2 separate regions of the Homo sapiens genome follow, and region 2 is linked to region 1. Evidence: fine-mapped QTL for protein levels in blood plasma. A gene starts in region 1. The other region holds a variant in brackets. All regions are shown on one strand. Distances are between the middles of the regions. Region 1 holds the start of PI3 (peptidase inhibitor 3). Region 2 holds the start of LOC101929863 (a long non-coding RNA gene).

Evidence for each region. A credible set is the group of variants that fine-mapping cannot tell apart. PIP is the chance, under the fine-mapping model, that this variant and not a neighbour inherited with it causes the effect. Protein levels are from antibody-based Olink assays in UK Biobank. Linkage for the fine-mapping came from a reference panel and not from the study's own genotypes, which makes the PIPs less certain.
Region 2: its variant is the best candidate, but not a certain one, in a credible set for the plasma level of the PI3 protein (UK Biobank, PIP 0.55).

Annotation. Positions count from the first base shown.
Region 1 is chr20:45,171,762-45,177,139 of GRCh38, forward strand. PI3 (peptidase inhibitor 3) reads left to right here and starts at 3,141. Exons shown (of 3, transcript NM_002638.4): 1 at 3,141-3,240; 2 at 4,100-4,375; 3 at 4,609-4,783. The coding sequence starts at 3,162. The coding sequence ends at 4,374. RefSeq lists an enhancer at 2,731-3,930.
Region 2 is chr20:45,133,884-45,139,261 of GRCh38, forward strand. LOC101929863 (a long non-coding RNA gene) reads right to left here and starts at 5,146. Exons shown (of 3, transcript XR_936751.3): 1 at 4,934-5,146; 2 at 4,634-4,791; 3 at 3,555-4,014. RefSeq lists an enhancer at 4,960-5,019. The variant G/C (reference allele first, on the strand shown) is at 3,134.

The DNA.
Region 1 (5,378 bases):
ACTTGTGTTGTTTATTCAACATTATTTTAATTATGGTCATATTGTGCATGGCTGTAATTCAGTTATTTTCATAATTGTATAATACTTCCTTGCATTAATATGTCATGACATATTTATGCATTAATATGTCATGACATATTTATCCAGTATTTTAGTATTGGTAACATGGACTGTTTCCAGTATGTTATTGTTAAAAACAGTACTTTTATGAACATTATTGTGCATGTTTCTTGGTAAACATGTGGAAATATTTTCCTTAATTAAATCTTTAGGAGTGCAATTGCTGAATTATAGATTGTGTACACATTCAATTTTACTAGCTGATGTCAAACTGTTTTTAAATGTTTCACCAATATAGACTCTCATTAGTAATGCATAAAAGTTTCTTTTCTACTACAAATCAATAAGAAAAGATAAACAACCCATTCAAATCTAAAATAAAAGTTGAAATTAAATAAATAAGTAAATAAAAGGTAAGATACTTGAATTGGCACTTCACAAAAGAGGATAGCCAAATGGATAATAGAAATATTAAAAATGGGCCGGGTGCAGTGGCTCATGTCTGTAATCCTAGCACTTTGGGAGGCCAAGGCAGGTGCATCATCTGAGGTCAGCGGTTCGAGACAAGCCTGACCAACATGGTGAAACTGCAAAATATAAAAATTAGCTGGGCATGGTGGCATGTGCCTGTAATCCCAGCTACTTGGGAGGCTGAGGCAAGAGAATCACTTGAACCTGGGAGGTGGAGGTTGCAGTGAGCTGAGATTGTGCCATTGAACTCCAGCCTGGGTGACAAGAGCGAAATTCCATCTCAAAAAAAAAAAAAAAAAAAAAAGGAGTATTAAAAATGGGTCAGCTTCACCAGTTATTAGGAAAGTGTAAATTCAAATCACAGGAAATCCCACAAGATGTCCACCTGAATGGCTAATGAAAAGGCAAATCATATGAGGCATTGGTGAGATTATGGAGCAAATGGAATGCTCACACATTGCTGATAGCAGTGTGAATTGGTACAATGATGTTGGAAAATTGATTGCAGTATTTATGACAGCTGGATGTATCTATACTCTGTGATCTGTACTCTGTGATCCAGCAATTCCATTCCTAACCATATATCCAAAATAAATGCATACCTATGTTCTGCAAGAGATATGTACAAGAATATTCATAGCAACACTATAATAGCTAAAACCTAGAAATATCCAATGTATATTGACAGTAGAATGAATATATAACATTTTTGGTATTTTTCATAGAATACTGTACAGCAGTGAAAATGATGAACTACAGGTGTAGACTTCAAAATGGATGACTCTCAAAAATATAATGTTGAGCAACATAAGCAGGACATATGAACACTATACCTTAGATTTCATTTACATACAAATTGAAAAAGTATACTAAACTGAATATATATTTCAGAATACAGACAGAAGTGGCATAACTATAAAGGAAAGCAAGGGCTAATTACCATAAAATCTTAGGAAGCAGTTATCTCTGGGGAGGAAGGAGAATGAAGCAACTGAGGAGAGGCATGGAGCATAGATATAGCAAATATTCTCCTCCTTTACCTGGCAGCTCATTTTAATGCTATTCTTTAAAGAATATAGGTATTTTCTGTGAGCTTTTTATTTGTTTGTATGGCTTATTGTACAATGAGCTTTTGTGTAAGGTAGCCAAAGGCTTCCACAGTCTGACATTCGTTTATGTCTCCCTCAGTTTCAGGCTTGGTGGGCATGTGGTCAGAGTCTAAATCGACAAGGGGTGGGGATTTCACCAGCTGAATTAGTGTCCAATAATTAGTTTGTTACCTTCCCTGCCTTAACTCCACCTCAACTCAGTGACTTTCTTAACTCAGATTCTGTCCCTGACAATACCCAACTTCAGGATATTCATTTCTATTACTCAGAACTTTTGGTAACAATGACAGAATAGTAAGTCAGACTAGCTGAAGCAGAGGGCTAATTTATTGCCTCATAACCCAACCATGAGAAGGGTGTGTGAAGAACTGCTCTCAAGGTAAAGGAGGGAAACCTGGCTGTGTCATCTGAATCTTCTCTCACCATCACTTCTCTCCTTGTCTCAGTGTATTAGAGTCGTTTTTCTCAGACAATTGATCTCCACCCCCAGACTTAGATAACCACTTCTGGAATTCCCTGGTTCATATATATCACCTTTTCCAGAAGAAGGAACCCCCGTTTTCCCCTTTCATTACTCATTCAAATAAAATATGTTAATAGACCAGACCAAGTCTCACACACAACACACACACACACACTCACACACACACACACACACACACACCCCTACCTGTGGTCAGGGGTCAGGCTTTCATGATTAGCAGTCCCCATTAGACTCACAAGTTGATGGTTCAAAGAGACAACAATTCTTCACAAGAAACAGGGTGCTGTTCAAAGAAGTGGGGAGGCATGCTGGACACACACACTGTAGATGTCCAATGTATACATGATACATGTTTTCTACTACTTTCTGATTATTTTCTCCCTACCACTGTGATTTCAAGGGCATCATCCCTCTTCAGACCTAGAATTCCACCTTCCAATTACTTTCTTGATGCATCTGAAAGGCCGTCTCTGAAACAGCAAAGTGCAATAATTAGTCATTATGTATTCAAGGCAAATTTGTCTTACAGAGTTTTTTGCAGGACCAGGGAAGAAGGAAGGAAATGCCCAGTTTGATGCTGGGAGTGGTAAAATGATAAAGTAGATCTGGGTGGGGTTTGTAGCACCAGAGCATAATGGAGAAACACCTTGGTTTTGTAATCAAGACTGGATCTACCAGTGACTTGCTGAATAACCTTCGGTGATTCCTTTCTCTTCTTGGGTCTCACTGTATTTCAAAACATGAAGAATTTCATTGTAATGTTACCTAATAAGTGAGCCAGCACTTCTACTCTGTGAGAAAGTAGGAAAACTCTTGGGACAATCAGAGATGATGTGATGTAATGTCCATTAGTTCTTCCTGTGAATAATCCTGAGGGAAAGCCCCCAGGTCCCTCCCAGAATGGGGTGGATATTTCCCAATACAGCTAAGGAATTATCCCTTGTAAATACCACAGACCCGCCCCTGGAGCCAGGCCAAGCTGGACTGCATAAAGATTGGTATGGCCTTAGCTCTTAGCCAAACACCTTCCTGACACCATGAGGGCCAGCAGCTTCTTGATCGTGGTGGTGTTCCTCATCGCTGGGACGCTGGTTCTAGAGGCAGCTGTCACGGGAGGTGAGTGAACAGGTGACCTGCTGGGCTGGGTTGGACTAAGGGGAGACCCTCTGGGACACCCTGGGCCAGGACAGGGAGCACTTCTGAAGCAGTAGGCAGCACTGGAGCCCAGATTTCAGCTTTCTGTTCTTTGCCATCATATTCAGAAAAAATAGGACTTTGGCTGGTGGACTCCACGTGCTTTCCACCTCAGTGACTGAGATATCAGGACTGTTTGTGGAAGTAATGTTGGTATGTGGCCTTGGCCTCAGATGTCAATACCTGTGCAGAATGTGCAATAAAATAATGAACTCCAGGATTTTAAACCTTGGGTGTGGACACAGTCCCCCGTTTCTCTGCCCCATAAAAGCACTGGAGTAATCAGTACTCTAAAAGGAGGTTAAGAAACAACAAGCCTTCAGGAATCATGTTGTTTGAGGACCCCCATTTTATAAGGAGGGAACCAAAAATGTAGAAATGAGTGAGCAATTGCCAAGGTAATTCCCAGAGCCAGGATGGGGCTCAAGTCTCCTAGTATGTGGCTCAGGGTTCTTTCCTACTCCAATGCACTTCCTAACAAATGACAATGTGTCCTCTTCACTGCTGGGTGTCACCCCAGTCTGACCACTGCTCCTGAGAGACTTGGAGTGGAGGAAGGGGGAAGAAACAAATACTCAAGGGAACTCTGGTCCAGTAGACCACCCCAAAAAAGGAAGAGCCTTCCAAGAGTGTAGCTCCCAGAGGTGTACCTTCCCTACTCAGGCCATGGTTTGAGGATGCTGCAGTAAGCAGTGGATGGACCCAGACCCAGAGGAAAGACATGGCAGCTGAAGCAGAGGCTTACTGGGTATAAATGTGGGCTCGTTTCTTCTTTTAACAGTTCCTGTTAAAGGTCAAGACACTGTCAAAGGCCGTGTTCCATTCAATGGACAAGATCCCGTTAAAGGACAAGTTTCAGTTAAAGGTCAAGATAAAGTCAAAGCGCAAGAGCCAGTCAAAGGTCCAGTCTCCACTAAGCCTGGCTCCTGCCCCATTATCTTGATCCGGTGCGCCATGTTGAATCCCCCTAACCGCTGCTTGAAAGATACTGACTGCCCAGGAATCAAGAAGTGCTGTGAAGGCTCTTGCGGGATGGCCTGTTTCGTTCCCCAGTGAGGTGAGCACTAGCTGGAGAACGAGGAGACCCCTGAAGACACAAAAGAAGGCTGAGCGGTGGGGAAGCATCCCAGGTTGGTGGGAGGGAGGTTGTGGGAGGTGACAGAAAGACTGGGAGACTGAGGGGTCTGAGAGGCTATAACCAGAGTGCCTAGAAGGATGATCTGTCTTCCTCACTGCCTCTGAGTGCTTTGATGTGCTGACTCTCACCTCTGATACTCTTCTCTTCCACAGAGGGAGCCGGTCCTTGCTGCACCTGTGCCGTCCCCAGAGCTACAGGCCCCATCTGGTCCTAAGTCCCTGCTGCCCTTCCCCTTCCCACACTGTCCATTCTTCCTCCCATTCAGGATGCCCACGGCTGGAGCTGCCTCTCTCATCCACTTTCCAATAAAGAGTTCCTTCTGCTCCACTTGTTTCTGGTTCCTATGACTTCTGGGCTCCTGGATGCTTTGGGGAAATGGATGTAGAATTGGGACTTCTTCTCTCCAGTGAAGAGGGGAAACGGTCCCATGGTGAAAGAGAGCAGGGCGGGGGGAGGAAACAGGAGGCACATTGCTAGGGCTTCATATTACAAATCCAATAATCAGCCCCAGTGCTGCCAGCTCCTTTTCACCAGGAAATGGAAATATGGAAATCTTGCCTTTGGCCAAGGACCAGGAAAAACACAAAACACAAAAAATAAATAAACATTACATAAACCATAAGCAGGTCTTTTTTTTCCAATCCACCATCAGTCCTGACCTGGCTACTGTCGGCCTTACCAGTGTGACCAGCCAACCCTTATGGCTGCAACTACAGCTCCCCACTTCCTTCTCATTAATGTTTCCCAGGAATCTATATCTTTTCAACACCACATAGAAAGGATGATGTTACAGATGCTGCGAAACTCCTGCTCTTTAGAATTTCACTGGTTTATGCCTGAGATTCCTCCATGAAGTAGCATTCCTTTAGGTTAAGCAATATTCTCTTCCAGATTTCTGTTTTAAGATGTGAATGAGGAGGCA
Region 2 (5,378 bases), 38 kb before region 1:
GTCTCAAAGTCCTGGGCTCAAGTGATTTTCCTGCTTCAGTCTCCTGAGTAGCTGGGATTATAGGCATGAGCTACTGTCCCTGGCTCCCACATTAAAAATTTTTAATGTTACAACTTACATCTTTTTATATTGTGTGCTCTTTGACAAGTTATTGTAGCTTTTATTATTTTTAATAGTTTTGTGTTTTACCCTTAATACTAAAAATATTTGATTTACACGCCACCATTATAGTATTAGAGTATTCTGAATTTGACTATGTACTTACTTTTATTAGTGAGTTTTATACTTTCGTATGTTTTCATCTTACTTATTAAAATCTTTTTCTTTCTGCTTGATGAACTTCCTTTAGCATTTTTTGTAATACTAGTCTCTTGACAATAAAGTCCTCCAGCTTTTGTTTGTCTGGACAATTTTAGTTTCTCTTTCATTCCTGAAGGACAGTTACTTTTTTTCCTTCAGCACTGTGAATATATCATTCCACTTTCCTGGTCTTTAAAGTTTCTGCTGCAAAGTTCACTGTTAGCCTTATTGGAATTCCCTTATGTGAAGTGCTTTTGCTTGCTGCTTTTAGGATCCTCTCTCTGCTTTTGATTTTTGACAGACTGATTGTAATCTATCTTGTTGTAGTGTTGTTTGGTTTAAATTTTATTGAAAGCTTTTGACCTTCCTATACCTATATATTTATGTCCTTTCCCAGATTTGGAAAGTTTTCTGCTATTATTTATTTAAATAAGCTTTCTACCCCTTTTTGTCTCTTCTTCTTAAAATCCCATAACTCGAATATTTGCTCTTTTGATGCTGTCCTAGATATTTCATAATCTTTCTTCACTACTCTTCATTTTTTTTCTTTTTTCTCATTTGAGTGTATATTCTAAAATAACTTTTCTTTGAGTTTACAGGTTTTTTCTTCTGCTTGATCAATTCTGCTGCTGATGCTCTTTATTGAATTTTTAATTTCATTCATTGCATTTTTCAGCTGCAGAATGTCTGTTTGATCTTTTAAAAAATGGCTTTACTCTCTCTATTAAATTTCTTATTTACTTTTTCTGATTTCATGAATTATTTCTCTGTATTAGTATTATTTTTTGAAGTTCATCAAGCTTCCTAAGAATAATTAGTTTGAATCCCTTGTCAGACAGTATTATATTTCTCCACTTCTTTGAGGTCAGTTATTAGGAGATTATTGTGTTCTTTTGGTGGCATTATATCTCTTTAATTTTTCATATTTCTTGTTCCCTTATGTTACTATCTGTGCATTTGAAGAAGTAGGGACTTATTCCAGGCTTTTCAGACTGACTTTGTCTGGGAGAGCCCTTCCCCAGTCAATCTGTCCAGAGATTCTGGGGAGACCATTGAGTGTGGTCTTTGGGCAGGTTTGAGTGCTTGGGCAGCCTAGCCTGGTGCCTGGGTCAGCAGGTGGGTGGACGTGTTACCTGGGTGGGGTTGGGCCTGGAATCTGTATTCACAGGAGCTAGCCTGAAGCCTGGGTCCATGGGGGCTGGCTTGCTCTTGGGGTGGCCCTTGAGCCTGAGTCTGAAAGGGCTGGCCAAGTACTGAGATGAGCCTGAAACGTGGGTCTACTGGAGCAGGCCTGTAGCCTTAGTCCAAGGGGCCGGGCCTGGGTCCTGGGTCCATGGTGTCTGACCTTGAGCATGGGTCTTCAGGGATGGTACTGGATCCTCAGTGCATGGGGAACTGGCCTGGTATTTGGGTCTACTGGGATGGGCCTGGATCCTGGGTCTGTTAGGGCAATCCTGGACCCTTTGTCTTCTGGACTCTGAGAACACAGAGTCTGGTCTAGAGTCTGGGTTTGGCCTCATGTTGTGGCAGTTGTAGTTCCTGGGTCTGCAGGGGCTTGTCTGGATCCTGGCATTGCAGATGCTGGCCAGTTTCCTGGAGACGTGTGTGCTGGCTTAGAGCCCGGGTCTGTGGGGACCTGCCTGGAGCCTGAGTTTACTGGGGCTGACCTTGGGGGCTGGGTGTGTGGGTGCTGGCCTGGAGGCTAGGTTCACAAGGGTTGTCCTGGGTCCTGGCCATAGGGGCTAGCCTGGAGCCTGAGTCTCTGGGGGCCAGTCTAGTGCTGCGGTCTACTGAGATAGGCTGGACCCTGGGTCTACTAGGGTTTGGGGCCATAGGGAACATCATGGTACTGGCTCAGAGACAGCTAGGGACAGTACTTTTGCCTCAGAGATCACTGAAATTATTCAAACTGGCCAATCTTGAGACACTTACCCTGCCTCACCTGCTCCTTCTTGCAGGAACCACAGAAAAGGTTTGCCCACATTTCTCCCTCACTCCCTCTATCTCTTGACTGAAAAAGGTGCTTTCTATGTGCCCCCCTGCCCTACCCTTCCCATGGCAAGGTGTGGCTCTCCTTTGAGATATGTGAGTATAACAAACTCTCTTTTAAAAGGCAGTAATCTCCTGATATGTTCGCTTTGTCATACCTAAATAATATTAAATACCTAAATAATATTAAAACCCAATTTTTTAAAAAGGAGCTTGGAAGGCAAAGGACTAGAAAATCAGTAGCAAGGATGTCTGTGGTAGGGAAAGAGGACCAAAATGTGAGGAGACATTTACTGTGAAGACTTGTGTATTACATATTAACACCTGCTGGGAAGCATCTATGATAGATTAGACCCTGACAGCCAAGATGAAAAACTCAACAAGTTGACATTAACCAGCTTTCTTTTTTCTTTTTTTCTTTCTTTCTTTCTTTTTTTTTTTTTTTTGCGACAGGGTCTAGCTCTGTCGCCCAGGTTGGAATGCAGAGGTGCGGTCTCCCCTTACTGCAACCTCTGACTTCCAGGCTCAAGCCATCCTCCCACGTCAGCCTCCCAAGTAGCTGGGATAACTAGCCTTCATCACCATACCTGGAGAAGTAACTGCAACACAAGGTAGAGGACAGTGGTGAGCATGGAAATGCACTGCTTAGATCTCCTGCTGCTTCAGGGTGTGCAACTGATGGATGCCCCCAGCTACTGTCCTCTGCATCTGCCACTATGTCTGTGCAGAAGTCATGGATGCTTCCATCAGGTTACTCCCAGCCAATGACTGAGTGAGGCCCGAACACTAAGGCAGGCTCATTCTGAGACCTGGGCCTCTTCTGATAGGTGACTTCAGTTCAAGC[G/C]TTGTCTTTCAGCCTGACTGGCACTTTACCAATGTTGTAATTCATTCTGAGACTCTTCCTCCTTCCTTCTCTCCTCCCTCAGAGCAGGCAGCCCTGCATCATGGTCTCATGCTCTCCTTGCCACTTTGGCTACCTCCCTTTGTCCCTCACAGGCATTTTCCCTGACACACACTCTTGATTACCTAATCCTGTCTAGGTATCTGCTTTTCAGAGTGAGTCCTAAACAAACCTACTCACCTATAGTTTTGGTTTGAATAGTTCAGGAAATGTTGAAAAAAGGGAGAAGAAGAGGAAGAAGATGGGAGAAAAGAACATGCTTTTTTTTTCCTTAATAGTTATTACTATCAAGTCAAGATGATTAAATTCCGTTAGAAACATTAAAAAGATTAAGGTTGCTTTTTAAATGAAAGGACAATATTCATCATATTCTTAAAAGTTTATTCTTTGTAACTATTATGCAATTATGATAAAAATGTTAGATGTCAACTTAAAGCATGCTAGGGAATAATTGGCTTTTCAAAATTTGTTTATAATAGTTACAAATAAAATTTTGGAAGACTTGTCCAGACTTCTACTACCTTTGTGGTCCTTAACTAAATGTGAAATATTAATCATATCCTTTTTTCAGATCCTAAGGGAAAAGCCATAAAGGATGGAGAGAGAGACAGGGAGAGAGAGAGGAGATCCAGCAGTCTTACAGATTTTTCTGTGGTTTTAAATATACAATGCTTTATCTCTTTGTCTTCTTGTCATATTAACAAGCATTTAACTCTGAAATGACATCTTGGGCCTGGGAAGATCATGGACAAATTGGAGACCAGTTATCCAAATCAGAGCCTGTAGCACCAGCGTCTCCTCAGGCTTGGCTAAGGAGTTTCCACCTCGAGAGAGAAGAGAGAATCAGGGATGTAGGAAGGTGAAAAGGTTCAGGGAAGGTTCAGCCTGGCTGGTACTTTGTCAATGCCAGGTGACATGGCATTGCAGGAGACATGAATTTGTGTCCTGGGGCACTGTGGCAGAAATCCTGCTAAGTACTCTCCTTCACAGAAAACTGAGATATGCTGCCCCAGAATCAGGGACTGGGGATCAGGGACTCTAGGCAAGCCATCCTAAGGAATAATGAATTTATAATCCCTGACCTTACAATTTAAATATGAAGAGAAAGGTGCTGTGAAAGGTATCGTGAAAAACTAAAATAATAACAATAAAAATTCAATAACCCTTGAGCAACTTAGAGATTATCTTGTCCAAATGTCCCCTTCATACAGAAGAGAAGGGTGATGCCCCTTATGTGAAATGGACAGTGCATATCCTGAGCAAGGAGGTCTATTGAGCCACCCGCTTCACTGTTCCGAGGCAGATCTGTGGGCCAACCCAACTTGAAAGATCTGATCTCAATGATTTCCAGGGGCATGGGCAGTTATCAACTCCTTCTAAGATGAATGCTTCTGCAGGAAGGTTTCAGGCGCAGCCGAGAAGGGCAGATCTGGGGCTCCTTACCTCAATCCAAAGTCCACCAAAGCTCTGTACACTGATGTTGACAGTTGAAGAAGCAATACTTCTCGATCCCCAGGCAGGCTTTATAGTGCAGCACACAGGTAAGAGGGTGAAAGGGCAGGATAGAGTAAACTCTGGGCAATATCCAGGTTTCGGTGCAGCTGGAGAAAGATGCCACAGGGTGAGTCGAGGGCAACCATAAGTCACTTCCAGGTATCAGGGCCAGCTCGTTCCACGGATTCCTCAGAGGAAATGTTCCCTAACCCCACCCACACCCAGGATTGTCACGCCTTACTCACTCACACTCTTCAGGATTCCAGGCTGAACCATGCGGAGGCCAAAGAGGACGGTCACAGAGAGTAGAGAGAGGCTGCTCAGCTTCTTGGTGCAAGAAAAGGGCGTGGGTGCACCTGGAGGCTGGACGAGTCTATGTCAGTTCTGGCGGGGCTCCACCAGCAGGCGGCGCTGTGGCTCTGGGGGCTGGAGGTCAGAGGTGCCTCAACTTGACCCGGAACCATCAGCTGTTTCCTTTCACCTCCAGGAAGAGATAACGTGAAACCATTTGTGCGGTATAATTTATGAGAGCCCTCGTGGACTGCCTTTCTTCAGGGTGTTGCAGGGCTGCCCTGGCTCTTCCTTATTCTGACTTTATCCAGCGGCTTTTGAGGCAATAGGAGGGCATTGTCTTTCCCCAGGCTTGTATCAGGTCTGACCAACTCCCCTCGTCCCAGTGTGTATCCAGAACAAT